4 linked regions of the Homo sapiens genome follow. The protein of the gene in region 4 purifies or fractionates together with the protein of the main gene of each other region. This does not show direct contact. Each region holds a gene or a part of one and is shown on either strand. Other genes may lie near its edges.

Region 1 (7,593 bases), on a different chromosome or scaffold from region 4:
TGTATACAGTGTTTATAAAGTCTACAGTGGTAAACAATAATGCCCTAGGCCTTCACATTCATTCACCACCCACTTGCTGACAAACTCAGGGCAACTTCCAGTCCTGCAAGCTCTATTTATGCATGGTATGTGCCTTATATGGGTGTACTTTTGCTTGTCTTTTTTTTTTTTTTTTTTTTTTTTTTTTTTTTTTTTTTTGAGATAGGATCCCCAGGCTGGAGTGCAGTGGCACAACCTCAGCTCACTGCAACCTCCTTCTCCCGGGTTCAAGCAATTCTCCTACCTCAGCCTCCCAAGTAGCTGGGATTACAGGCGTCCACCACCACGCCCAGCTAATTTTTTGTATTTTTAGTAGAGACAGGGTTTCACCATGTTGGCCAGGCTGGTTTTCAACTCCTGACCTCAGGTGATCCACCCGCCTCAGCTTCCCAAAGTGCTAGGATTACAGGTGTGAGCCACCAAGCCCAGCCTTTTGTCTTTTATACTGTATTTTTACCGTACTTTTTCTGTGTTTAGATATGTTTAGATACATGAATACTAAACATTGTGTTACAATTGGCTACAGTATTCAGTACAATAATATGCTGTATAGGTTCGTAGTCTAGGAGCAATAAGCTATACTACACAGCCTAGGTGTGTACTGGTTGTACCATTCAGGATTGTGTAAGTACCTCTATGATGTTTGCCCAATGAGGAAATTGCCCAAAGGTGCATTTCTCACAATGTATTCTCCTTGTTAAGCAATGCATAACTGTATATGGGAAGATGTAAATAGGTTATATGTAAATACTATGCCATTTTATATAAAGGACTTGAGCATCAGTGAATTTTGGCATCCACAGGGAGTCCTGGTACCAATTCCCCACAGAGAGTGAGTGACCACTGTACATTATTCTCCCTACAATCACTTTCATCTCTTTTTCCTTTTTTACTGTACTTCCTCATTTAGGTGGAGGGGACTCCTCCCAGAACCTGTCAGCTCATTTCCCACTGAACACTTCTCACCTTTCCATATTTGTTCAACTTTAGAGTATTTAACTGCTGCTGACACTCTAAATAACTATTATCCAGCTTTGCCCATGGTGTCCTAGGTGTGGCTCTCACTCAGGGTTTCATAGAAATGAAGATAGGGTGAATGACTTAACCAAACTCTTGAATGTAAGGGAACGTGTGAATGGCTTTACTCTGTATGAAAGTATTTTCTCACAGAGAGAAACAGAAAATGTATTTGCAAGTTCCCATTTATTAGGAAAAAAGGCAATCACTCACCTTCTTTTCCTTATTAAGTATCTCAACAGCTAATTTGGCTGCGGCATTTTTTGCTTCCTTCTTTGATCTACCTTCACCTTCTGGAAATTCTCTTCCATCTATTATAACTTGAAATGTAAACCTGATTACAAAGAGAATATTCATAAAATATTATACAACTCATGCACTATCTAAAAACAAGTACTCTAGTCATCACTACCTCCTATGACTACCTTTGAGGGTTTGAACCTACATTCAATATAGCATTTAAGCAGTCACCTCAAACAGTAAAGCAGCATGTCTTGTTGAAGCATGGAAAGGTTTCTACCCTCTTTTCTCTCTGGAGTCAACTGTGGCTCCACCATGGTTCCCACTTTATGCCAAGAGCACTCTCACAAAACTAAAGTGTTGACCTCAAAGTTGTGCCAGAGTTGCCATTCCCCCAGCTTACATTTATAAGGTCATATCTTTTTTCTTTTTTTTTTAATTTTATTATTATTATACTTTAAGTTTTAGGGTACATGTGCACAACGTGCAGGTTACATATGTATACATGTGCCATGTTGGTGTGCTGCACCCATTAACTCGTCATTTAGCATTAGGTATATCTCCTAATGCTATCCCTCCCCCCTCCCCCCACCCCACAACAGTCCCTGGTGTGTGATGTTCCCCTTCCTGTGTCCATGTGTTCTCATTGCTCAGTTCTCACCTATGAGTGAGAACATGCGGTGTTTGGTTTTTTTGTCCTTGCGATAGTTTGCTGAGAATAATGGTTTCCAGCTTCATCCATGTCCCTACAAAGGACATGAACTCATCATTTTTTATGGCTGCCATATCATTTTTTATAGCAACCTACCTCCTATCATGTGGAGGTCCTGAATTAGGCAGTTCTTGATATTTAAGTACTACTCCCTGCTTCTGACGGTATGTATTAAGTTCCTCCATGAAGAAACCTGCTGAAAGATCACCAGCCATTTCTTCTTCCCGTATCCTACAATGGAAGAGACATTTGAATGAGTGATGCTCACAGAACATATTTAATCTGAGTTTCCCAATGCAGTTTAGGAGACAGAGGGGTTGGGGAGACTCCCCTTTATAGGACTCATCTCAGTCTCACATAAATGCAGAGACTTTCTTTCAAAACCGTTCTTTCTTTCTCATTCACTGCACAATAAAGTTAATTTCTCCAAAATTTTCTACTTTAAAAACTCAACTTGGCCAGGTGTGGTGGCTCACGCCTATAATCCCAGCCAAGGTGGGCGGATCACCTGAGCTCAGGAGTTCGAGACCAGCCTGGGCAACATGGCGAAACCCCATCTCAATTTTGAAATTGTTTTAAAAAATAAAGGAAAGAAAAAAAACTCAACTGGTCAGTGAAAGGGGGTCCTTCTCTTTAACTCTGCTCTGTGCTTCCACTGAGTATCAACTACATGTTTGCCTACCTGCTTAAAAAAGTAAAAAGGCTGCAGGATTGTAGAATGTTTTATGTTGAGAAGAAAAAGATTTAGAGTATATATAATAAGTGAAGTGGAGTGGTAGCATGGGGACAGGCTGGGAAATGAACGGGCAGGCAAGTGTGCCTGTGTGGACGTGGATCCTGCCGGAAGCCAGGCGGAGGAGAGCTCAAGCTAAGGGTGATCAGCCCGTGACCTAGATCTCTAGACAAAATAAAACAAGGAAAATATGCTAGAATCAACAATGATGGATCGATAGTTGCAGTCCAGCTTCGTACTACAAATGAGTGCCATAAAACCTACTATACTTGTCACACAGGTTTTAAGATGTTGCAAGAATTGTCATCAAATGACATGCTTTTACTTCAACTTAGAACTGGAAGGACACTTTCTAGGAACAATACAATTTGCTTTCATCACATAAAAATTTATATTGACAGATTTGAGGATTTACAGAAGTCGTGTTGTGACCCATTTAACATACACAAAAAACTAGCCCCCCAGAATTTGCATGTAATTGACTTAGATGATGCCACTTTTCTGAGTGCAAAATTCGGAAGACCGCTTGTACCTGGTTGGAAGCTTTGTCCAAAATGCACGCAGATAATCACGGAAGTGTGGATGTTGATTCTGAAGACCGCCAGAGAAGCAAACCTGAGTCAGATGGAAGAACTGCTAAAGTTTTGAGGTCATTACAATTTACAAATCCAGGAAGGCAAACTGAATTTGCTCCAGAAACTGGTAAAAGAGAAAAAAGAAGGCTTAAAAAAATGCAACCGCTGGTTCAGACAGACGAGTGATACCAGCGAAGACTAAGGTCTATGATAGCCAGGGTCTCCTGATTTTTATTGGGATGGACCTCGATGCCTCGATGAAGATTGTTTAGGATGTTTCTATGCTTGTCGTGCCTGTGGTTCTACCAAGTGTGGAGCTGAATGCCACTGTGACCGCAAGTCACAAAGTATGAGCAAACTGAAATTGAAGGAGGAGAAATAATTCATTATAAACATGCTGGATAATCTGTGGTATCAAACTATGGGGCCTTTAAAGGTCTTTATTTCTAAAATTCGGTTACTCTAAGATACATTTTAAGCTTGATTGTCAAATGACAAAGATTTTAAAAGCACCTCAATGTGCACGAATTTTTCATCTTGGGTGCTTTAAGATTCACTATTTGATATAAATTCAGATAGCCTATTTCTCAGTAGTCAGCATTAAGCCTGCCTGGACCAATATAAACATGTAGGGTGTAGGCAGGTCCTCAATGTGCACGGTTCCCATGGCACAAATTTCAGTGACCTAGATTTAGTTTAAATACCAGTTTCCTTACCAGGAAGGAAAGGAAACTGGTAAGGAAACTGGTGTTGTTTAAACCTAGGTTAAAATTTTAGGTAGCACAGTATAACTCTGAGTAATTACAGGAAGTACAAACTTCTCTGCTAGTTCTTCAGTCTACAAATCACGATGTAAATAACAGATATGCTTCATGATCAGTGACCAGTCGTGTTACTTGTTTCAAATTCTTCCAGTGGTTGGTCCCTGTGCATCTGTTAATCAGTTCACTCACAGCAGAGCACGTAGTTACACTGTCTCTTTGTCCTCCACCTGACATTTTATAGAAGTGAACAATCGAAAGAACTGGCCAACAAAGATGAAAGTCCAACAAAGCAACGAAAAATGATAACACTGGAAGTGAAATTTGAATCAAACATAAATGGATTTGTAGAAGAAGTCACTGATCATGGGAATGTTCTTCCTGCTGTGCATTCATAGGAGCTTAGTGAAGGCAAACTTATCAACACAAATAAGAAAAGTGATTGCAATAAAGATAAATATGTCCCAGAGGAAGTGACGGTAAAAAAAAAAAAAAAACAAACTTCACACTAAAGAGCATTTAATGTGAATACAGAAATACTTCACAACATTGAAAGCACAAGCAATAAAAGGCTGGAAGCTCACCCAAACTTAAAAGGAGTATGACAGTTTGCCATGAATAGAAAAGATGCTTACTCAGTATCATAAGTCACTTGGCAGAAAAAAAAGGCAATCCCTATTCAAACTACTTAGTTTTCACAATGAAATAAAACACTTTAATTCTATTTTTAATGTTTTAAATTACAGTGTACTAAATATTTTTAAATTTTTTTTGCATTTTTTTCTACATTTATAACTGACCTTAAGAGTTTTAATATTTTAGCAGAATTTTAAAGGTCATGGAACAATCATCATTTTCCCCATTGATTATTAAGATTGCTTTGCATGGCCATTTTTATGGTCCCACAGTACCATGCAAAATGAGGACCGCTTGTAGCCGGGAACAACACAATGCTTGCTTCAGGGAAAACTGATTTACACAGAAGTGACTAGTTGAGTGGTAAACTATTTTGGAAATAATCTACATATCTAAGTGCTGAAATATATTTCTCTTCTCCCCACGTATTCTTCAAATAAAAAAGTTTTAATACTTTAAAAAAGTGAAGTGTATGAAATCATGAAGGATTTAACTGTATGGATATAGATTTCTCTATGAAATCCCAAAAATCTCCCCTCTGAATTTTGCAGAAATCAATTTTAGGACAATTTAACCACTGAGTAAATTAAGACCTCTGTTTATAGGTCTCACTGGACCAAGTCTATAGCAATGATTTAAATTATAAACAAAATTTAGAGGATATAAAATATAAATGTACAAGCGAAAACTATAAAACTCTTAGAAGAAAATATGGGGGAGATCTTCATGACTTTGGATTTGGTGATAAAATTTTAGCTATGACAGCAAGAGCACAAGCAACAAAAGAAAACAGAGATAAATTGGGCTTCATCAAAATTTAAAACGTTTGTGTATCAAAGGACACTATGAAGAAAATAAAATGACAATCTACAGAATAGAATATTTACAAATCATATATCTGATGAGGGTCTAGTAACCAGATATATAAAGAATTCTTACAGCTCAACAACAAAAAGACAAACCACCCAATTAAAAAAATAGGCAAAGGGGCTTGAACAGACATCTCTCCAAAGAAAATATGTAAATCGCCAATAAGCACATGAAAAGATACTCAACATCATGAGTCATTAAAGAAATGGAATTCAAAACCACAACTAAATACAATTTCACACCCACTAGTATGGCAATAATAATAATAATCAGGAAATAATAAAAAATAAGTGTTGGTGAGGACATGGAGAAACTGGACCCCTCAAACACTGCTGATAAGAATGTAAAACAATACGGTTGCTGGGGTTCCTCTAGAAGGTAAACTTTGAATTATCATAAAACTCAGCAATTCCATTCCTAGATATTTCAAAGAATTGGAAAACAGGTTTCCAAACAAAGACTTAGACAGGAATGTACATAGCAGCACTGTTAACAATAGCCAAAAGGTGGAAACAAACCAAGTGTCCATCAACGGATAAATGGTGAACAAAATGTGAAATATATCTACACAGCGGAATATTATTCAGTCACAAAAAAAATGAAGTACTGATACATGCTACAACATGGATAGGCCAGGCGCCGTGGCTCATGCCTGTACTCCCAACACTCTGGGAGGCCGAGGCGGGCGGATCACGAGGTCAGGAGATCGAGACCACGGTGAAACCTCGTCTCCACTAAAAATACAAAAAATTAGCCGGGCGCGGTGGCGCGCGCCTGTAGTCCCAGCTACTCGCGAGGCTGAGGCAGGAGAATGGCGTGAACCCGGCAGGCGGAGCTTGCAGTGAGCTGAGATCGCGCCACTGCACTCCAGCCTGCGCGACAGAGCGAAGACTCCATCTCAAAAAACAACAACCACAACAACAAAAACATGGATAAACCTCAAAAACATTATGCAAAATGAAAAATCCAGACATAAAATTTCACACATATTGTATGATTCCCATTTATATGAAACTTCCAGAATCGGTAAATCCATAAAGGCAGAAATCAGATCCTGTAAACCTCTTAATTCTTCTTGGAAAGCTCTTTTGATCTTCTTTCTTCCAGGGCCACTCTTTCTGTTTTTTGTTTTTGAGACAGGGCCTCACTCTGTTGCCCAGGCTGGAGTGCAGTAACATGATCTCAGCTCACTGCAGCATCTGCCTCCCAGGTTCAAGCAATTTTCCTGCCACAGCCTCTCAAGTAGCTGGGACTATGGGACTACAGGTGCCCACCACCACGCCCAGCTAATTTTTGTATTTTTGAGGTTTCCCGGTGTTGGCCAGGCTGGTCTCCAACTCCTGAACTCCAGTGATCCACCAGCCTCAGCCTCCCAAAGTGCTGGGATTACAGGTGTGGGCCACCACGCCTGGCCGGGCCACTCTTTTTAACACACCTTAATCTTTGTAGCTCTAAATGCTGGCATGGCCCAACAATCCTCTTCTCTTCACTCTATACTTTCTCCTTAAGGTGATTTCTTTCACGTCCATGATTTCAGTGATCATCTATACGCCATTACCTCTAAAGTTTACATATTCCTTATGAACCGCTCTGAGTTTCAGATCTCTCTATCCAAATTCTCCACTTGAACATCTTGAACGAACTTTAAACTCAAAATATCCTGTACTGCATGTATGATCTTCTCCCAAGCTGGTTTGAAGTTTCCTTTCACAGGAAATGAGTCCACCATCTATCCAAGTCTGAAAGCCATCAATCTGGGAGGCATCCTTGACATTTCCTCTCCCTGCCTTCTAATCTATAACTAAGTCCTGTCACCAAAATCTTTCTACTTCTCAAAGATGTCTACACTTACCATCCTAGTTCAAGCCAACACCACCTCATTCCTGGATTGCTGTGAGAATCTCAGAACCAGTTCCGACAGCTACTTCAATTCCTTCTCTACCCTGCAACCATTGTGATTTTTTTTTTTATGTTTTAAAATTGTGATAAAATACACATAACATGAAATGT
Region 2 (7,593 bases), about 68 Mb from region 4:
CAAATGATCTGATTCTTCCTCTTCTATCATTCCCATTCTTTCAGCTATTTCTTCAGCAGAAAGTTCTTTTGGGTCAGGGTAATCCACCAAGATTGTTTCTTGCCTACGCTTGATACAGTCTGAAAGGTCATAAATTGGGTAAGTCTCTTCAGGGTAACCTAGAGAGAAAAGTAGCACAAAGTATTACAAAGAATGTCTCCTCAAAAAAAAAAAAAATAGTGTCAGGTTCAAAGAGGATTCTCAGGCAGCAGCCATCCTATCCTAACAAATCCATTCAAGACATCTCTAAGATTCCAATAGTTCTAAAGTTTTACTTGAGCAAATTCTTAGCAATCTGGCTATCCCAGTGCTCTTTGAAATACAAACTAATTCAGATGAAAATCCCTTCTTATGTGTAGGGTGCTTGGGGCAGAGTTAAGTCTTATACCATGTGTTTTTGCAGTACTGATGAAGATTAAACAAACAACATGAGCCTTTAGTTAAAACAAAAAAAGCATCAAAACCAGACAGAGACAGCACAGCTCCAGGCTAATGTTTATAATTTCTATTTGGAACAATTTCCAAATCTTCCTTGGTGGAGTGGGGAGAGGAAAGGAATGCTAAGCTCTTTGAAAAATACACCATGAAGCTTTCTATTTATCCAAACAATTGAAATGGCTTGCAAGTGTCAAAAATAGAGAGCACTTTAGCAAGGCATGCCCAAGATCCCGAAAGGACAAGCACTGCATTTTCGGAAGACAGAATTCCTGTTGTTGGCTTCTTCATCTTCACAAAATGGAACAAAAGAAAACAACAAACTGGCAAACAAAATGAGTAACACTGGTACTGAATCCCAGCTAGGATAATGAGAAAAGAGAAACTGTTGCCAAATTACCAAACTAAATGAAATAAATCTGTGTCCGCCAAGCAAGCCTGAGCAGCAGATGGGCCGTGCTGGAGCTCACACACCAGTACTGGCACCAGCGGCCGTAATCACGATACAGTGCAGAAAGCTGGAGGATTCAGAACCCATTTGCCCATTATGATAATTGGCAAATTCAACCCTAACGTAAACCATTTTTTGCCTACAACTGTGACAAATAAGTCTTTTTTGGTGCAATGTAGGGTGTGTGTGGAGACATTTCTACATTTACTGCTTTTTCTGACTATAAAAATCATACAGACTCATTTGTAGAAAATTTGAAAAAAATACAGGCTAGTTTAAAAAAGAAAACACAAATCACCCATAATATCTTCACTCATAATAATTTGCTTTTTTCTGGTCTTTTTTTAACCGTATATACACATATATTTTCTTTTCTTTTCTTTTCTTTTCTTTTTTTTTTTTTGAGACGGAGTCTCGCTCTGTCGCCTGCCCAGGCTGGAGTGCAGTGGTGCAATCTCGGTTCACTGCAACCTCTGCCTCCCCGATTCAAGTGATTCTCCTGCCTCAGCCTCCTGAGTAGCTGGGATTACAGGTGCATGCCACCACACCTAGCTAATTTTTTGTATTTTTAGCAGAGACGGGGTTTCACTATGTTGGCCAGGCTGGTCTCAAACTCCTGACCTCAGGTGATCCACCCACCTCGGTCTTCCAAATTGTTGGGATTACAGGCATGAGCCACCGCGCCCGGCCAACATGTATTTTCTTATTCCCCTTTTTTAAAAAGAAGGATCATATTTGTGTATAAAAGGTTATATCCTGATGTTTTTCAATTCAACATTATATCATGAGCATCTCTCCATGTCATTAGGCATTTGAAAGTTGGTTGCAAAATATCTCATCATATAGCTACATAACTGACATGATTTACTAGTCCTCTTTTCTAGGGCATTTAGATTCTTTCCAATTTTCCCCTATTATAAGTAGTATACAAGTTAAGATTTCTTAATATAAATCTATGTCCACTTCCCTAGTTCTTTAAGATAGACTTCTATAAATATGAAAACTAGACCAAAGGGAATGGACATTATAAAAGCCTTTTTTATACTGTGCCAAATTACTTTCCAGAAGAGTGGTATAAATTTTCAATCCTACCAGTGATATAAAGACTGTCCATCTTATGACACCCTCACCAGCACTCACAGTAGTATGTTAAGAATTTTGCCAATGCAGTCTTTATTCCAAGGCTTAACTTACTGCGGATGGAATGCTAGGTAAAGTGGAGCTTAGCTAACCCAAGACCCTCAGCCACCATGGTCAAGGATAGGATCTGGAGAAGCTGCTTGCTAGTCAGCTCCCAGCCACTGAATGCTTAAAAGAAGTCCATTTGCTGGCATGTCCCTGTCTTCCCACACTTAGAACAAAGCTTATCTTTGAATTTTCATGACTATCTGCTTTAAGAGGGAAGGTCACCCAGACTCAGGCTCTCAGCCTACCCCAACACCAGGCCTCAGTCCAGCTCTGCATCCCTAGTCATAATGCCTGCACCCACAGACCCAGCCTCCATGCTGGCCCCTGCAGATACAGACTCCGGGCCCACCCAGCATCAGGCCAGCAACTATGGCCCCAGAATCCAGTCCCACCCTAGGTTCCAGACAAAACCAGAGCCAGGTCTGCCCACATAGCCCAGTGCCAAATTGGCACCCCAATGGCACCCAAATTGGAGCCTGCAGACACAGGCTCCAGGCCTGCCCAGTGCCAGGCTAGTCTCTATGACCACCCCCACCTTCAGGTTGGCCCCTGCATTCCCACAATCCAGCAGACCCTGGGTCTAGCCCAACCCAGTAGACCCCAGCATTGGGCCGGCCCTCAGAACCCCAGGACTGCCCCTATGGACCTAGGTTCTAGGCTGAGGCCTGTGGCCCCAGGACCCAAGCCAGCCCTAATGAACCTAGCCTTCAGACACATCCATCAGACTCAGCCTCCAGGCCCATTTCAGTGGACCCGGGCACCAGGTTCATCCTAGCACCTGGCCAATCTCTGAAGACCCAGGCTCAAGGCCCAGTCCAGCCCCAGGTCAGCCCTTGTGGACCTAGGCTTTGGGATAGCCTCTCTGCACAAGATACAAGCACCAGGTCCATGCCTGAGGATCCAATCAACAGGTACACCCCAGTGGATCCAGGCTTCAACCCCAACCCCACGGACTCAACACCAGGCCACCCTGCCTAAGGACTCTACCAGCAAGTCTACCTGCAGATCACACCAAATGGCCTACCCAGAATCTCTGGGCAGGCTGACTGGTGAATGGCTTTTCCGGACAAAGCCAGAATGCAAAAACCATTCACCAGCAAAAGTCCCTGCTTCTTCAAATGCACAGATACCAATGCATAGCCATGAGGATCAAGAACAATCAAGGAAACATGTTGCCACCAATGAACAAAATAAAGCACCAGGAACAGACTCTAAAGAAATGAAGATACGGCCGGGCGTGATGGCTCACGCTTGTAATCTCACACACTTTAGGAGGCCAAGACAAATGGATCACCTGAGGTTAGGAGTTCAAAACCAACCTGGCCAACATGGTAAAATCCTATCTCTACTAAAAATACAAAAAATTAGCCGGGCGTGGTGGCAGGCGCCTGTAATTCCAGCTACTCAGGAGGCTGAGGCAGAAGAATCGCTTGAACCCAGGAGGCAGAGGTTCCAGTGAGCCAAGATCAAGCCATTGCACTCCAGCCTGGGCAACAAGAACAAAACTCCATCTCAAAAAAAAAAAAAGAAAGAAAGAAAGAAAAAGAAGACACATGAACTGCCTGACAAAGAATTCAAGATAACTGTTTTAAGGAAACTCAGCGAACTTCAAGAAAATACAGAGAAACAATTAAAGGAAACCAGGAAAACAATAAATAACTAAAACAAAAAATTTACGAGAGATTGAAATTATATTAAAAAAATCAAACAGAAATTCTACAGCTGAAAAATACGAGAATTGAAATGAAAAATGCAATAGAGAGTATCAACAGCAGAACTGATTGAGCAAAAGAATGAACCTTTGAATCTAAAGACAGATTATTTGACAATATACAGTTGGATGAGAAAAAAAGAATGAAAAGAAAGCAAGCTTATGGGATTTATGGGAACTGGAGTTCAAGAAGGAGGAGACGGACACAAAGGGATAGAAAGCTTAAAGAAATAATAGCAGAAAACTATACAAATCTGGGGAAAGTTATAAATATCTGGGTACAAGAAGGTCAAAAGTCTCCAATCAGACTGAACTCAAGTAAGACTATATCAAGAAGTATTATAATCAAACTATCAAAAATCAAAGACAGAGAGGATGCTGGAAGCAGCAAAAGAAAAAAAGTACATCACATTATAAGGGAGTTCTAACAGATTTATCAGCAGAAACCTTAAAGGCCAGAAAAGAGTGGGATAATATATTCAAAATGCTTACGGAAAACAAAAACAAAAACAAAAAAAAAAAAGGTCAACCAAGAATATTGTAGTTGGCAAAGCTCTCCTTCAGAAATGAGGAAAAAACAAAGACTCTGCCAGACAAAAGCTGAAGGAGCTTATCCCCACAAGATCTATCTTATAAAAAATGCTCAAGGGTGTTCTTCAAGTAGAGAGCAAGGGACACTATTCAGTAACACAAATATACATATATATATATATGAAAGTATAGGCTAGGTGCGGTGGCTAACGCCTGTAATCCCAGCACTTTGGGAGGCTGTGACAGGTGGATCACCTGAGGTCAGGAGTTCGAGACCAGCCTGACCAACATGGTGAAACTCCACCTCTACTAAAAATACAAAATTAGCTCGGCATGGTGGTGCATGCCTGTAATCCCAGCTACTTGGGAGGCTGAAATGAAAACTATAAAACATTGATGAAAGAAATTGAAGAAGACACAAATAAAATGAAAAGATGTCCCGTTTATGGATTGGAAGAATTGATACTGCTATAATGTCCATACTATACAAAGCAATCTACAGATTTAATACAATCCCTATCAAAATTTCAATGACAATTTTCACAGAAATAGAAGAAACAATTCTAAAATTCATATGGAACCACAAAAGACCCCAAATGGCCAAAGCAATTGTGAACAAAAAGAACAAAGCCAGAGGCATCACAGTACCTGATTCCCAAATCTACTACAAAGCTATAGTAATCAAAACAGTATGTTACTGGCATAAAAACAGACACACAGACTGATGGAACAGAATAAAAGCCCAGAAATAAATCCACATATTTATGGTCAATTTTTTTAAACAAAGATGCCAAAAAATAAAACACACACACACACAGGTCAAAGGACAAACACAAAAAGGTCAAAGGACAATCTCTTCAATAAATGGTGTGGGGAAACTAGATATCCACATGCAAAACAGTGAAATTAGACCCTCATCTCACACCTCACATTTACAAAAATCAACTCAAAATGCACTGAAGACTTAAACATAAGACCTGAAGCTGTAAAACTACTAGAAGAAAACCTAGGGAAAAAGCTCCATGACATTGGTCTGGACAATGATATTTTTGGATATGACACCAAAAGCCCATGCAACAAAAGTGAAAATAGACAAATGGGATTACTGAAAGTTTCTGTACAGCAAAGGAAACAACAGTAAAGAGACAATCTATGTAATGGGAGAAAATATTTGCAAACCATATATTTGATAATGGGTTAATATGCAAAATATATAAGGAACTCAACTCCACAGCAAAAGAAAACCCAATTTAAAAATGGGCAAAGGATATAAATAGACACTTCTCAAGAGAAGACAGAAAAATAGTCAACAGGCATATGAGAAAGTGCTCAACATCATTAAACATTCAAGAAATGAAAATTTAAACCACAATATCACCACATCTGTTAGAATGGCTATTATCAAAAAGACAAAAGGCAATAATAAGTGTCAGCAAGGATGTAGAGAAAAGGGAACCCTTATATACTATTGCTGGGAATGTAAACTAGTACAGTCACTATGGAAAACAGTATACTGGCTCCTCAACAAATTAAAAATAGAACTATCATATGATCCAGTAATCCCACTACTGGATATATATCCAAAAGATAAGAAATCAGTATGTCAAAAAGATATCTGCACTCCCATGTTCACTGCAGCATTATTCACAATAGCCACACTATAGCATCAATCTGAACATCCATGAATGGATGAATAAAGAAAATGTGGCACATATACACAACAGAATAGTACTTAGCATTTTTTTGTTTTTGGAGACGAGGTCTCACACTGTCACCCAGGCTGGAGTGCAGTGGCACAATCTCAGCTCACTGCAGTCTCCACCTCTTGGACTCATCTCAGCCTCCCACCTCAGCCTCCCAAGTTGCTGGGACTAGACACATGCCACCATGCCTAGCAAATTTTTGTATTTTGTGGAGACAGGGTTTCACCGTGTTGCCCAGGCTGGTCTTGAACTCCTAGGCTCAAGCAATCCACCTGCCTCGGCCTCCCAAAGTGTTGGGATTACAGGCGTGAGCCACCATACCTGGCCTACTGAGCTTTCAAAAAGGAAATCCTGTTATTTATGACAACCTAGATGAACTTGGAGGACATTATGTTAACTGAAATAAGCCAGGCACAGAAAGACAGATACAGCGTGATTTCACTTACATATGGAGTGTAAAAAGGTCAAGCTCATTAAGAAAATAAAATGGTGGTTATCAGAAGCTAGGGGGATCAGGGAAATGCTAGTCAAAGGACATAAAATTTCAGCTGGATAGGAGGAATAAATAAGTTCAAGAGATCTATTATACATTATACAGACTATAGTTAATAACAGTATGTTGTATATTTGAAAATTGCTAACAGAGTACATTTTAAGTGTTCTCACCACAAAAATCCTTAAGTATGTGAGGTAATGTGTATGTTAAATAGCTTGATTTAGCCATTTCACAGTGTATACATATATCAAAACATCAATATATATAATTTTATGTATTAATTAAAATAAATAATTTTCTTTTTAAAAGAGGAAGAGGCCCACTGAGGAAAATCAAATAATAACTCATAAAACTGCTGAGGTAGCCTATGTAAGCCATCATTACTGGTTACTCAAAAACATCATTAAGGCTGGGCACGGTCGCTCACGCCTGTAATCCCAGCACTTTGGGAGGCCGAGGCGGGCAGATCACGAGGTCAGGAGATCAAGACCATCCTGGCTAACACGGTGAAACCCCATCTCTACTAAAAATTAAAAAAAATTAGCCAGGCGTGGTGGCAGGCGCCTGTAGTCCCAGCTACTTGGGAGGCTGAGGCAGGAGAATGACGTGAACCTGGGAAGTGGAGCTTGTAGTGAGCCAAGACCCTGCCACTGCACTCAAGCCTGGGCATGACAGAGCAAGGTTCCATCTCAAAAAAAAAAAAAAAAAAAGACCATCATTAAAAATATAAGCAAGCAACAAAAATTCACTGCTCCTATGAGGAAACCAGCAGTTCAAAATGAGGGAACAAAACTAACCAAAACAAACAATGCCAATAGTCTCTAATAAAATAGTTAGTGCAGGAGATAAAGGCGTTAACATCAACCAATTTATGATTGATATTCCTAATAATATTCAAGAAGATACTGCATTGATAAAACCTAGCCAGGCTTCAATTTAAAAAGGTAGCAAACAAGAAATAAAAAGGAGCTATTGAATAGAAAGCCATAATTGTAAAAAAAAAAAAAAAAAAAAAAAAAAAATTAATGCTCAGGCAAGA
Region 3 (7,593 bases), on a different chromosome or scaffold from region 4:
GGTTTTAGGGAAAACTGTTGAGGAATCAGGCCTGGAGAAAATACTCAACGGGGAAAACTGGGAACCAGATGTTAGGTAGGGCTTGGAAGGCATGGATATAAAATTAAAAGGACTGGGGTGACATTTTAGGGCACTAAACCTTGGGTGTTAGAGAACTCTTGGCTTAAAAAAGAAACTCTACTTTGCAACAGTTGTAATATAGCTACCGTTTACTCCCCAGGGTTATACTAGTAACTGACACCTGAAACATTTTGAAAGTTACCTAAGTATGTTTCACGTATGAGAAAACTGGTAGCTACCGTATTCTCAAATGATGATTTGGGTTTAAAAAGCCATTTCAAATTAATTATTAGAATCGTTTTCTTTCTGAGGACGTCTTTAGTAAAGTACTGATTTCTTTTACAGTAAAAGGCTTTAAAAACTACTCCTTTTCTACAGTAAAACGTTCAGTTCTTAAGGATATATTGAAGTGGCGGGTAGACGTTATTGTATACATACCATATATGTGAAAGTTGAAACTCCAGTTTTTTTCAGAGCCCAGCTAAATTGACAGCATAACTAACTTTTGTGGACAAAGTGTGGATTTTGAAGCCAGCCAGGCCTAAGTCAAATCCTGGTTCCACCACTTACTACGTATGGGCAAGTTACTTCTCTGAACCTGGTTGTTCATTCATGTGGAAAAGGAAGATTAGAGATAATAAATGTAAAGCATTTGGCTTAGGCAGTAAGTGGCAGCTATAATCAGAGGGATGAGGAAACATCTTTGCTTGTTGGTGTTTGATAACATAAAGCGTGTTTGGTGAGGTCTTTTCTAATGTTACTCAGGTGATAGTGTGCAGGAAATGACAAGACTGTTAATGGGAAACTGATTCATCAACCAAATGTATTGATAACCCATCAACAAAATGTCCACCACTGTGCTAAATGAATTGGGGGAGGAGGCAGAAAACAGTTCTGCTCTTGAATAAATTAAGCATTATGACATGTGCACTTTGAATTAAGAAATGTTTGCTTTCGCTTTAAACTCTAGTAAAACTTGGAATGATTTGCTTGAAAAGATGTGTTGAAATGGCTTTGAAGAATAGATTAGAGCTTGAAGTGAAGAAATTTAGGTTTCTGGGAATAGTATATGTCGTAGTTGGGGCTCAGGCATGGTGACTTGTGCCTGCAATCCCAGCTGAAGTGTGAAGATTACTTCAGGCCAGGAGTTTGAGACCAGCCTGACCCCATCTCTAAGAAAAAAATTTTTTTAATTAGCCACGCGTGGTGACACTCGCCTATAGTCCTAGCTACTTCAGAGGATGAGGCAGGAGGATCACTTCAGCCTAGGATTTCAAGGCTACAGTGAGCTATGATTGTGACACTGCACTCCAGTCTGGGTAACAGCAAGACCCCCATCTCTAATAAAATAAGTACAATGCTGACTTTTTTTGCTTTTTGATGAATAGGGAAAAAATATTTTTTTAATGTCATAATTGGTGTTGAAGACATGGTCCAGTAAGAAGCAATTATGAAAAATAATAAACAATCTAGCATGGATCAAGCCTTATGAAGAATCTAGAAATTTAACAACATAAACCAGAAACAACGACTATTAGATTTTACACTAAAAATTCGAAATCAATGAGTAGGAATTCAAAGGCTCTGGAAGGAAGAAGTGAGCAACCCAAAAGGAAGATGGAGCGATAAGAGGAAAGAGCCTTTCAGGACCCTAAATACCTGGGTGGTTTTTTTAAGGAACTGTTCATTCTTACAGTTATGCTGCCAAACCATGATATGCATGAAATGTCATTGAAAGTCAAGGTTGAAATGAAGTCATTTTAGAGTTTCAAAGACAGGTATGACAGTCACCAAACAGCACACAATATGACCTCCTGGCATCATTGAGGAATCATTACAGAGGAAAACGACTTCTGGGAAGAAGACCAATGGTAAAGATGTATTTCAAGCAAAAATTGCCTGTATGGCAAAAACGCTGGAGAGTCTGAAAGGAAGGAGTGAGTACAAAAGAAAAAGCATAACTTAGCTACGTATGTAAGCTTATAGTCCCCTAGCAGAAGGGCAGTGGATCTCCCTACTGGGAAGCATGTTTGAACATATCTAGATTGTGATTAGTAATTGAAACTCAGAGGCCGGGCGCGGTGGCCTGTAATCCCAGCACTTTGGGAGGCCGAGGCGGGCAGATGACGAGGTCAGGAGATCGAGACCATCCTGGTTAAGATGGTGAAACCCCGTCTCTACTAAAAATGAAAATAAAAATTAAAAAAAAGTAGCCGGGCATGGTGGCAGGCACCTGTAGTCCCAGCTACTCGAGAGGCTGAGGCAGGAGAATGGCGTGAACCTGGGAGGTGGAGCTTGCAGTGAGCCGAGATCGTGCCACTGCACTCCAGCCTGGGCGACAGCGAGACTCTGTCTCAAAAAAAAAAGTAATTGAAACTCAGAAACAGATTTTGGATGCTTTAGATAGGTCTTTGAAGAATTGCTGGAGTTCAGATTTGTAGAAGTGAGATGTATCAGTAGATATGTTAGGCTGAAGGGTTGTAAGTTAAGTTTAGAATTAAGGCATAAAATGCTTGTCTAGACCGGTCACGGTGGCTCACACCTGTAATCCCATCACCTTGGGAGGCCGAGGTAGGTGGATCACTTGAAGTCAGGGGTTTGAGACCAGCCTGGCCAACATGGTGAAACCCCATCTCTACTAAAAATACAAAGATTAGCTGGGTGTGGTGGTGGGCACCTGTAATCCCAGCTCCTCTAGAGGCTAAGGCAGGAGAATTGCTTGAACCTGGGAGGTGGAGGTTGCAGTGAGCAGAGATTGCATCACTGCACTCCAACCTAGGCAACAGAGCAAGACTCTGTCTCAAAAAAAAAAAAAAAAAAAAAAAATCTTGTGTAATAGGAAGATGACCAAATAAGGAAACAAATGAGTTCTTCAAAGGAGATTTAGTGTTCAGGAAAGGATTCTATGGACCCTGAGAGGGTTTGGAGAAGAGGTGTGTAAGCAAGAGTTCATTGCCTACCGTTTTATTACACCAGGCATCGCTAATGTAGATTGCCACTGTTCTAGAGAACTTTTTGAAAGATGGTTTGGGACCACAAATACAACGAAGATCTCCCAGGATCATATAGACCATTCCATTTCCCATTAAGGTCTCCTACTTTTCTACCCGCCCCATAAACTTCAAGAGTCACTGCAAGGGCCTGGCACGGTGGCTCACACCTGTAACCCCGGCACTTTGAGAGGCCAAGGCAGGCAGATCACCCAAGGTCATAAGTTCAAGACCAGCCTGACCAACATGGAGAAACCCCTGTCTCTACTAAAAATACAAAGTTAGCCGGGCGTCGTGGCACATGCCTGTAATCCTGGCTACTCGGGAGGCTGAGGCAAGAGAATCACTTGAACCTCAGAGGCATAGGTTGCGGTGAGCCGAGATCCTGCCATTGCACTCCAGCCTGGGCAACAAGAGCAAAACTTCGTCTCAAAAAAAAAAAAAAACAAAAAGAGTTACTGTAGGGAAGGGAGGGGCAGGAATCCTAGATGCACGTCAAGGAAGCAACAATATTAGCAGCACTTGTTTATACCCTTTCAGCTCTGTGGTAACTTTTGTTGGCTTTGATTGTATATAGATTTTATTTTTTATAATAAGCCATTTCATGTAAAGTGTGAAAGAATTTTGAGTACACTAGTTGCCCTTTTGTCATAAAATCTTGTGGTTTTAGTCAGATCTTTATATCTTAGCTTTTCCATATTTTAGTTAATGAGTAAAACTTACCACATATTAAGATTATTTTGCCTGTCTAGTAGCTAGAAGGATAAACCCCCAGATCATTGAAATTTATAGTTTTATTTTTTAGTTCAAGTCATGAATTAAAACTCTCAAGGGAAACTTGGATTTAAACTTCAGAACCTGCGTTTCATGGAACAGTGAAATCATGAATAGCCTGAATTTTCAGGGGATGTTGTGGTCTGTTTAGTCATGCTATCTAATTATTACCAGAAAATTTTTGTTTTCGCCCTTGTTTAATGCACCATAATTTTTTTAATGTGGAGTTCAAGACTCTTCGAGTGAGGCAGGTCGTTGTTGTGTATGTCACTGCTCACTGGAGGGCATTATTAAGCCTTAGATACTGAGAAGAATTACTGCCAACCCCAGCACCTACACAGGGATTTTTCTCTTTTGACTCCTGAATTCTTGACAGATTAGGAAGTATATAGTTAGTTTAATGTTCCAGGTTGCTGGTTTCTGGTTAGATGAGCTGTTACAGTATTTTTTTCTTTTTTTTTTTTTTAAAGTTTTTAGTTTTTAATTCTCCCAAGGCTTCTCCCAAGGCTCTGTCATTCATCGTTACCGTATTCTTAATCATGAGAGGGATTATCTTCACCCACCACCAAGTGGCAGAGAAGTGCTTTATCATTTTTATGATAATGCTATAACTAATGAGTGACAAAAGAAAAAGCAAACACTTTGCCTTTAGGAACCCTACCACCTATTTGTTGTTTTTTTGTTTTTTGTTTTTTGTTTTTTTTGAGATGGAGTCTTGCTCTGTCGCCCAGGCTGGAGTGCAGTGGTACAATCTCAGCTCACTGCAACTTCCGCCTTTTGGGTTCAAGCAATTCTCCTGCCTCAGCCTCCCAAGTAGCTGGGACTACAGGCGCGTGCCACCACGCCCGGCTAATTTTTTGTATTTTTAGTAGAGACAGGGTTTCACCGTGTTAGGCAGGATGGTCTTGATCTCCTGACCTCATGATCCACCTGCCTCGGCCTCCCAAAGTGCTGGGATTACAGGTGTGAGCCACCATGCCCGGCCACCTTTTTGTTTTTAAGCCCTTCTGCCAGCCTCAGAAATAGCATCCCATTTGCACTGGCATGTACAAAGCATTAGAGTCTATGTTAAGAAAAGGAAGACATTTGGTTCTGGATTAATTTTAGGATTATCTAAGAAGAGGTTAAAACAAGTTTTGTTTAAAAGCGTGTTTGAATAACTCTCTTTATGTATAGTTAAAATTAAAGACCCACTCTTAATTTTCAAAGTAGCACATATTTATAATTGGAAATTTTTTTTTTTTTTTTTTTTTTTTTTTTTGAGACAGCGTCTGGCTCTGTCGCCCAGGCTGGAGTGCAGTGGCGCAATCTCGGCTCACTGCAAGCTCCGCCTCCTGGGTTCACGCCATTCTCCTGCCTCAGCCTCTCAAGTAGCTGGGACTACAGGAGCCCGCCACCGCTCCCGGCTAATTTTTTGTATTTTTAGTAGAGACGGGGTTTCACTGTGTTACCCAGGATGGTCTCGATCTCCTGACCTCATGATCCACCCGCCTCGGCCTCCCAAAGTGCTGGGATTACAGGCGTGAGCCACCACGCCCGGCCGGAAATTTTTTTTGAGATGGAGTCTCTGTCTGTTGCCCAGGCTGGAATGCAGTGGCACAATCGTGGCTCACCTCCCAGGTACAAGCGATTCTGCTGCCTCAGCCTCCCAAGTAGCTGGGATTACAGGTGTGCACCACCACCCCCGGCTAATTTTTGTATTTTTTGTAGAAACGGGGTTTCACCACGTTGGCCAGCCTGGTTTTGAACTCCTGACCTCAAAGTGATCTACCTCACAAAGTGCTGGGATTACAGGCGTGAGCCACCACACCTGGCCTATTATAATTTTTTTATATGGAGAAGGACCAAAATAATCCAAAGATGTAACTCTTTGCATTTTGGGTTTTTTAGTTTTACTTTTTTTCACATACAGGTATGGGCATGTGCACGCACGCACTCTGTCTCTCTTCTTTTCTTTTTTTTTTTTTTAATTAAAAAACCCACCGGCCAGTTGTGGTGGCTCACGCCTATAATCCCAACACTTTGGGAGGCCAAGGCTGGCAGATCACAAGGTCAAGAGATTGAGACCATCCTGGCCAACATGGTGAAACCCTGTCTCTACTAAAAATACAAAAATTAGCTGGGCATGATGGCGCACGCCTGTAGTCCCAGCTACTCAGGAGGCTGAGGCAGGAGAATTGCTTGAACCCAGGAAGTGGAGGTTGCAATGAGCCTAGATCGGGCCACTGCACTCCAGCCTGGTGATGGAGCAAGACTCCATCAAAAAAAAAAAAAAAAAAACCTATCTCCTGCACAGTCTCTCCCTTTTCTTATGCCTCTCCTGACTCCTTTTTTTTTTCCAAACTTGGAATCATACTATAAGTTATTTTATAATTTGCTTGTTTCACCCTAACAGCCTGATCCTTTTCCTTTGTCATTAAGTATTCTCCTACAACCTGGTTTCTAATGGCTACATAGTACTCCAACATACATATGTTATTTAATGGACATAATCAGAACCATGTTGCAAGGCATTTAGGTTATCTTTATTTTTGTACTATTTTATGCATGTATAATACTGTTGAATATCCTTTATATGAATTTTTGTATACATTTCTTTTTGCCTTAGGGCAGATTCCTGCAAGTAGACTTTGGGAGTCAAAGCATATACACATTTTAATGCTTTTGCTAGCTATTCCATTACTCGGTAAATTAATATTTACGTTTCCACCTGCGGTGTTTAAGAGCTCCTATTTTTTTTTTTCTTTTTTCTTTTTTTTTTTGAGATGGGGTCTCAATCTGTCTCCCAGGCTGCAGTGCAGTGCAGTGGCATGATCTCAGCTCACTGCAACCTCTGCCTCCCGGGTTCAAGCAGTTCTCCTGCCTCAGCCTCCCAAGTAGCTGGGATTACAGGCGCCTGCCACCACACCCCGCTAATTTTTGTATTTTTAGTAGAGACACAGTTTCACCTTGTTGGCCAGGCTGTTCTCAAACTCCTGACCTCAGGTGATCCGCCCACCTCATCCTCCCAAAGTGCTGGGATTACAGGCGTGAGCCACCGCACCCACCAAGAGTTCCTACTTTTCTGAACAGTGCCCTTTATTATAATTTTTTAAACTAATTTTTTCTAATTAAAATGTTTAGAATTATATATGAGGAAATCATTTGGCAGCCTTTAAGGCTTGTCTATTTAGCCTATCAAGCATAACAAATTCAAGAACTTTTTGGACCAGGTGCGGTGGCTCACACCTGTAATCCCAGCACTTTTGGGAAGCTGAGGTGGGCGGATCACTTGAGGTCAGGAGTTTGAGACCAGCCTGGCCAGCATGGTGAAACCCCGTCTGTACTAAAAAGACAAAAATTAGCTGGGTATGGTGGCACTTGCTGTAATCCCAGCTACTTAGGAGGCTGAGGCAGGAGAATCGCTAGAACCCGGGAGCCGAGATTGCACCATTGCACTCCAGCCTGGGCAACAGAGTGAGACTCCATCTCAAAAAAAAAAAAAAAAAAGAAAAAAAAAAAACAACTTTTTAGGCCAGGCGTGGTGGCTCACACCTGTAATCCCAGCACTTTGGGAGGCCGAGGCGGGCGGATCACGAGGTCAGGAGATCGAGACCATCCTGGCTAACATGGTGAAACCCTATCTCTACTAAAAAAAAAATACAAAAAAAATTAGCCGGGCCTGTTGGCCTGCGCCTGTAGTCCCAGCTACTTGGGAGGTTGAAGTAGGAGAATGGCGTGAACCCGGGAGGCTGAGCTTGCAGTGAGCCGAGATCGCACCACTGCACTC
Region 4 (7,593 bases):
TTAAACATGTTTTTAACACATACTACAAAACTTCTAAAATAAAAATTGATTCATCTGCCACATGAAACCAACTCTCACGCCACAAGTGATACTGATATACATAATCACATTTTTGCAAATGCTAATCTAGGTATTTCTGTATCTCTTTCAAGTCCTAATCATCTTATGAAAGAATGATCATACTCTACCCTACTTCCTGTTAATTTCATCCAACTTGGCTAGAAGCTGGATGCATACTTAGATGGTAACGGTCCTACTGCCAGCCCTGAGGAGGCTGAGTAAAAGACAAGAAGCTTATTAAGAGGGACAGTAATAAATAACTGCTATTACACTCCCCTCAGACAGTCCAAAGAATAGTGCCTTTAATTTCTTCCTGAATTTGGAATGATAAAGATAAGACATACTTCATTTAAATAAGCTTTCTTTGAAGCAGTGATTATTTCAAAATATCTAAGCATGCTCAAAGAACATGCCAAACAAAAATAACAACTTCTAAATTTGTTCACCCAAGGAAGGGAGGTTGGGAAGACATGAAGGGAAAACATGTATCTAAATGGAACACACTATCTTGGGTTGTACCCAAAGAGTTGTTAAACACATTTGGGATGAATTTCTATTCAGAGTCAATATTTTCTAGTTCAATTCCATGCCATAATAGAAAACACAAAGATGATTCTCTGACTTCCTAGTAACACTCAACTTCTAGTGCTGGGCTCGTGATCCTGAGTCTACTAGGGAGGCTGAATGAGGAATTGGTTAGGGACACAATCACTGAAGGGAGTACAAGTTATTATATTCAAAGCTCCCCCATCTTTCACACCGAGCAAATGTCCCCAAAATAAGCAAAAACACATACACAGTCAATTCTTGATATCTTACTAATTATTAAATAAGGAGGGGAGGAATAAAACATTTTAACAAATTTTTAAAAGTCAAATCAAATTGATTTTCTATTTGCAAATAAAGCAAAGATATTATAGATCAGAAAACAGAATGTATGAATGAAAAAAATGACATTTTACAAATATTTATTTTGGCCAGGAATGTTGGCTCACACCTGTAATTCCAACACTTTGGGAGGCCTTGGCCGGGTAGACGGCTTGACCCCAGGAGTTCAAGACCAGCTTAGGTAACACGGCAAAACTCCATCTCTACAAAAAATACAAAAATTAGCGAGGTATGGTGGCATGTGCCTGTAGTTCCAGCTACTTGGGAGGCTCAGCGGGGAGGATTGCTTGAGCCTGGGAGGTCGGGGCTGCAGTGAGCCATGGCTGCGCCACTGCACCCCAGCTTAGGCAACAGAGTGAGACCCTATTTCAAAAAAAAATAATAATAATAAAAAATATAAATATCTATAAGGACACATGCCAAAAAAGACAATATTCAAATACTACGTATGATACCAAGTATCTCAGTATCAAGATTTAATCTTTAACTGCTGAATTAAGGTTTGAGCATAAAAGAATAATCTTACTCTAGCATCAAAATAATAAAATATTTGGCTCCGGCCAAATTCAGTAGTCATGAATGTTTACTGATGAAATCTTTTTTTTTTTGTCTGTTTAAAGACAGGGTCTCACCACCATGTTGCCCAGGCTGGCTCTGAATTCCTAGGCTCAAGCAATCCTTCAGCCTTGGACTCCTGAGTAGCTGGGACTACAGACACGTGCCACTGTGCCTTGCTACTGATGAGATCTTCAATGCCAAACTAATAAAGCCAAAACTCTTAAACATTTAGATACAGATATCAGAAAATCCAGGGGTTTTTGTTTGTTTGTTTTTGAGACACAGTCTCACTCTGTCACCAAGGCTGAAGTGCAGTGGCACAATCTTGGCTCACTGCAACCTCGGCCTCCTTGGTTCAAGCGATTCTCCTGTTTCAGCCTCCTGAGCAGCTGGGATTACACGTGTGCACCGCCATGCCCAGCAAAATTTTTTTTGTTTTGTTTTGTTTGGTATTTTTAGTAGAGAAGGGGTTTCCCCGTTGGCCAGGCTGGTCTCAAACTCCTGACCGCAAATGATCTGCCCGCCTCAGCCTCCCAAAGTGCTGGGATTACAGGTGTGAGCTACCATATCCAGCCCAGAAATCCAGTTTTTAATAACAACATCTCCTAGACGTATAGAAAGAACATTTTCTCACATTTGCGTTCATTTATTCAAGATTGAAGAATCATTTAGAAATTAAAAAAGCAAACCTGGCTCATCTTTCTGTTCTATTCTCTAACTAAAGAATGTAAGAATGAACTATCCTTTAAATTTCTCACAATCTGGTTAGAATTATCTAATTAAGAGACCATATTTATTACTAAAATAAAAATGCAAAAATGCATATGGCAAATGTATTTAAAATAATTTGGGATATTTTTACTTCATGTCAAGAACATAAAAGTAGTTTGCCTTTTAAACATATGAAACCTTTTATTTTGGTTGATCATTATTACCCTTTTAACAAATCAAGGCAAAAATATTCCTCAAATATTTGTGATTAAACTGTTGAACCGGAATTGGCTCACCTCCCAATGACTTCACAAGTATCTGCTTCAATTAATTTTGAGAAATAAAATAACCCAATCATTCTTTAGTTTTCTGATGCCTCTGCAAAATGTATCTGAAAAAAATATCAAAATAAATTGCTGCATAACAACATATAGTGTACCTTTGAATCAAGTTTATGTCTATCCCAATATCTGAGGTGTTACATTAGTTACACTGAAACAAGTCTGCTTCATTTCAATCAAATTTGCCTTATTTGTGCCTTTTATAAATCACAGCAAGAGAATCACAGAGGGTTAAAAATCTTAGAACTCAGGAATTACCTGGCCTAATCTCCTTATTAGGAACTGGGGCCCAAAGAGGGGAAGTGACTTGGCCAAGCTCACACAGTTAACAGTAGGTCCTGATATGAAATTACATATTATTGATGAAAATGTTTTTCCACATTACCTGGATAATTTGTTTACCATTATATCTACCACATAAAAATTAAAAGTTGGTTCTAATAGTACATACAAAAACATGAAAACAAGAGCTCCATTCCGAGATGAAAATTTTACTCATAAAAAAGCTCTAAAGAGCTCCAAATAAAAACACCAACTTTACCTTAAATAAACATATACTTTTATAATCATCTAAAATTTTCCTGAAGACTAAATAATATTTAAAAGTGGTTACCTCAGCCGGGTGTGGAGGCTCATACATGTAATCCCAGCACTTTGGGAGGCCGAGGTGGGCGGGTCACTTGAGGTCAGGAGATTGAGACTAGCCTGGCCAACATGGAGAAATCCCACCTCTACTAAAAGTACAAAAATTAGCTGGGCGTGGTGGCACAATGCCTGTAATCTCAGCTACTTGGGAGGCTGAGGAGAGAGAATCGCTTGAGCCCAGGAGGTGGGGGAGGTGGCAGAAGTTGCAGTGAGCTAAGATAGCGCCACTGCACTCCAGCCTGGGTGACAGAGCAAGACTGTCTTTAAAAAAAAAAAAAAAAAAAGTAGTTACCTTGGGTGAGTAGAAATGGGGCACCAGGAACCGAAGAGTTTTGTTTTGTTTTGTTTTGTTTTAATCATTTTGAGTTTTTTTTCCAGACAAGCGCTCACTCTGTCGCCCAGAGTGGAGTGTAGTGGCATGAACACAACTCTCTGCAGCCCCGACGTCATGGGCTCAAGTATCCTCCCATCTCAGCTTCCCAAGTAGCTGGGACTACAGGCATACGTCACCACACCTCGCTAGTTTTTTTGGTATTTTCTGTAGCGACGGCATCTGGCCATGTTGCCCAGGCTGGTCTCAAACTCCTGAGCTCAAGTGGTCTTCCTGCCTCGGCCTCCCAAAGTGCTGGGATTATAGGCCCCCGGCAAAATCAGGATTTTAAGAACAAAACAGATACTTTTCAGCTCCAAATCTGTCTTCATCTTAAAGTGGCAGGATATAGGAATACCTTCCAACATTGGTAAATACTTACATTTCCAACCAGACACAGTGAGAGAGAGAAATCAAGTCAAACAGAGAGACACCAAGCTCTTCTATTACTCACAGTTCTACAGATCATAGAGGTCTCAAAATGTTTGGCACATAATCGATAATGTTTATTTAGCTGATCAGGTGTTTTATCTTCTAAGTCTGCTCTCCTACAGTTCTCCACCCACTTCTGGCATCTATAAATAAAACCAAAATACAATTATGAAAATGAGCTCAGCATTTAAATTTCAGCCTTCAGTTTTAAGGCAAACATACATTAATAACAACGGATTCCTGCTCCCCTCCCTGAGAACATAATTTGGAGAATTTGATTAATAACAAAATAACAGTTGGAAAAAACCTTAGAAGTCATTTAGTACCAACATTTCAATTACAGACAAGGTTAAGAAGTAACTTGTTTGGAGGGAAGTACAAAATCATCAGCAGAACTAGAACTGAAACCTGCATCTTCCAACTCCCAAAACATCAGAGAAGATTCAACCATCAGCAGAACAAGCAGAAAGCTGCATGCACAGCCACAAGGCTCACAGCTTAACATTCCCTTCAGGATTTCAACTTCAACAAGCATACAAAACAACACTGTCACTGTAGAAAATCAGCAATTAGGCCGGGCGTGTTGTCACGCCTGTAATCCCAGCACTTTGGGAGGCCAAGGCAGGCAGATCAGGAGGTCAGGAGATCGAGACCATCCTGGCTAACCCGGTGAAACCCCGTCTCTACTAAAAATACAAAAAATTAGCTGGGCGAAGCGGCGAGCGCCTGTAGTCCCAGCTACTCGGGAGGCTGAGGCAGGAGAATGGCGTGAACCCGGGAGGCGGAGCTTGCAGTGAGCCGAGATTGCGCCACTGCACTCCAGCCTGGGTGACAGAGCCAGACTCCGTCTCGGAAAAAAAAAAAAAAATCAGCAACTAGATGTTCTTTAAATAACTAGTTTCTAAGGGAAGCATAAAGGCTGTATTCGTTTATCTTCCTATGAACACAAATTATTATCTACAGTAATACGTGCTGACTAGATTGCAAGCTCCATGAATGCAGGGACTGTGACTACACAATCTAGTACACAAAAAGTGTTGAAGACAGAGAACAAGACAAAGTCCATGCCCTCTCGGTGCTTAAATATTTTCAGAAAAGCTAATAATAAGCACTTATTATGAGCCAGACACGTTCTAAGTCCTTTCCAAAGATGGGTACTATTAATATCCCCCTTGTGCAGATGAAGGCACAGAAATATTAAGTAACTTGCTAAAGTCACAACTAGATCTTTCCTCAAATTTCTTTTCTTTTCTTTTTTTTTTTTGAGACAGAGTTTTGCTCTTGTTGCCCAGGTTGGAGTGCAATGCCATGATCTTGGCTCACTGCAACCTCTGCTTCCCGGGTTCAAGCGATTCTCCTGTCTCAGCCTCCCAAGTAGCTAGGATTACAGGCATGCGTTACCACGCCTGGCTAATTTTGTATTTTTAGTAGAGACTGGGTTTCTCCATGTTGGTCAGGCTGGTCTCGAACTCCCGACCTCAGGTGATCTGCCCGCCTCGGCCTCCCAAAGTGCTGGGATTACAGGCGTGAGCCACCGCGCCCGGCCCATTCCTCAAATTTCTAAGAATAAAAGTTCTGCCGTGGATAAACAGTATCACAAATTATTTTTTTGAGATGGTGTCTTGCTCTTTAGCCCAGGGTGGAGTGCAGTGGTGTGATCTCAGCTCACTGCAACCTCTGCCTCCCAGGTTCAAGCAATTCTCCTGCCTCAGCCACCCAAGGAGCTGAGATTATAGGCGTGCACCACGACACTCAGCTAAGTTTTGTATTTATAGTACAGATGGGGTTTCAGCACGTTGGCTAGCTTGGTCTCGAACTCCAGATCGCAGGTGATCTGCCCACCTTGGCCTCCCAAAGTGCTAGGATTACAGGCGCGAGCCACTGCGCCCGGCCCAACATATTCCTTTATAATTAAATCACAGTATTTTTTTTTTATGTTTTAACACTATTGTCCACCTCCCCCCAACATACATGCCCCTGACACTTAATTCTCTCTACTCTAAAAATGTCAAATCAAGGTAAAATGCTATGATTTTTAAAAAACTACACCTAAATTGTACAGCATTTCATTTGACCAACAAGTATTACTGCTCACAGTAACGATGCCTAAGATGTTCACAATTTAATCACACTTTTACACAGTTGTACATTATGATTATAAACATTTCATGTTTCAAAATCCAAATATTAAGTATAAAAACGATCTCACTATAAAATAATTTGCCATACTGCTACAGTTGTTTGTTTTTTAAATTCTTAAATCTCTGGAGACCTTCCACACAGAGCAATACTGTACATATTACCTCCGAACTAAGTTGAAACAGCTTTCTGATATCAACAGCAACTCTTATTCAGACAATCAAGAACAGAATGGGCATCAGGCAGAGAGCCTAATCAAATACACCTGACTTTCTATATGAACTACTTAAGAATAAATCTAGTGAAAGAAGTGCAAGACCTCTAATAATCTTTTTAAAGCAAACTTAAATAAATACACAAGTTTATGAACTGGCACACTAAATTCCAAAGATGTCAATTCTCCCCAAACCCATTTACTAATTCAATATAATCACAAGCCCAGTAAGTTTGTGAGAGAGAGCAAGAGAAAGAAATGACAAATTATTCTAAAACTTTTTATACACAACATTAAAGAACCAGGGATAACCAAGATAATCTTGAGAGAGAGAGAGGAAAAAGGAGGTTGAAAGAATTACACTACCAGATATTAAGACTTACTGTAAAGCTTATTAAGACAAGTACTGGCAGAAGGACAGAACAGTGAAACAAAATAGAGCACTGCAGATACTTAAAGGTAGCTCTGAACAGCAGCAAATATGGATTTTTCTTTTCCAATAAATAGGGCCGAGTCAGCTGAATATCTACATGAAAAAAATAAATCTTAACTCCTACTTGTACACCATACACAAAAATAAGTTCCAAGTGATTGGAGATCTAAATATGAAAGGTAAAACAATAAAGCCACTAAAAGATAACACAGGAGATTATCTTCATGACCTTGGAATAAAGATCTCTTAAGGCAACAGCACAAATGCTAGAGGAAAAGATATATAAATTAGGCTACTTTAAAGTTAATAACTTTTCTTCATTAAAAGAAGCCATTTAAGAGTGAAATGGCAGACCACAAAATGTCAGATATTTGCAATACATATATCTAACAATGGACTCACATTCAAAATATATATGAAGAACTCCTACAAATAAATAACCCAACATAAAAATAGGCAAGGGGCCTTGAACAGGCACTTTATAATAAAAAGGTTATAAAAATGGCAATACATAGATGAAAAAAAAATGCTCGATCTCATTTGCCATCAGGGAAATGCTAATTAAAGCCAAAACAAATTACTACATACCCACAAGAATGACTACAATGTAAAAGAGGTAATACCAAATATTGGGGAGAAGGTGAAGTAACTTTGCCCATCAACAGCAGGATGGATAAATTGTGGTATATTCATTCAATGGAATACTACTTGGCTATGAAATGAACAAACTATCTACAATCTCACAAACGTAATGTTAAGCAGAAGAAGCCAGGAGTACATACTACATGATTCCTTTGATATG

Evidence for each region.
Region 1: the proteins of THAP12 (region 4) and EIF2AK2 purify together in Homo sapiens (affinity purification with western blotting, with the first as the bait; one study listed by BioGRID). This does not show direct contact.
Region 2: the proteins of THAP12 (region 4) and RIC3 purify together in Homo sapiens (co-immunoprecipitation; one large-scale study listed by IntAct). This does not show direct contact.
Region 3: the proteins of THAP12 (region 4) and SRSF4 purify together in Homo sapiens (affinity purification with mass spectrometry; one large-scale study listed by BioGRID and IntAct). This does not show direct contact.

What each region holds. Positions count from the first base shown.
Region 1 is NC_000002.12:37,145,584-37,153,176, forward strand, and holds part of EIF2AK2 (interferon-induced, double-stranded RNA-activated protein kinase), read right to left. Parts: intron 3,722-7,593; exon of another isoform or gene 3,441-3,721; 5' UTR 3,274-3,440; exon of another isoform or gene 2,911-3,273; intron 2,823-2,910; exon of another isoform or gene 2,789-2,822; intron 2,240-2,788; 5' UTR 2,224-2,239; coding exon 2,105-2,223; intron 1,391-2,104; coding exon 1,270-1,390; intron 1-1,269.
Region 2 is NC_000011.10:8,110,980-8,118,572, forward strand, and holds part of RIC3 (protein RIC-3 isoform a precursor), read right to left. Parts: intron 159-7,593; coding exon 1-158. UniProt on the Homo sapiens protein: Molecular chaperone which facilitates proper subunit assembly and surface trafficking of alpha-7 (CHRNA7) and alpha-8 (CHRNA8) nicotinic acetylcholine receptors.
Region 3 is NC_000001.11:29,173,187-29,180,779, reverse strand, and holds part of SRSF4 (serine/arginine-rich splicing factor 4), read left to right. Parts: intron 1-5,061; exon of another isoform or gene 5,062-7,593. UniProt on the Homo sapiens protein: Plays a role in alternative splice site selection during pre-mRNA splicing. Represses the splicing of MAPT/Tau exon 10.
Region 4 is NC_000011.10:76,361,825-76,369,417, forward strand, and holds part of THAP12 (52 kDa repressor of the inhibitor of the protein kinase), read right to left. Parts: intron 4,149-7,593; coding exon 4,028-4,148; intron 2,609-4,027; exon of another isoform or gene 2,514-2,608; intron 1-2,513. UniProt on the Homo sapiens protein: Upstream regulator of interferon-induced serine/threonine protein kinase R (PKR). May block the PKR-inhibitory function of DNAJC3, resulting in restoration of kinase activity and suppression of cell growth.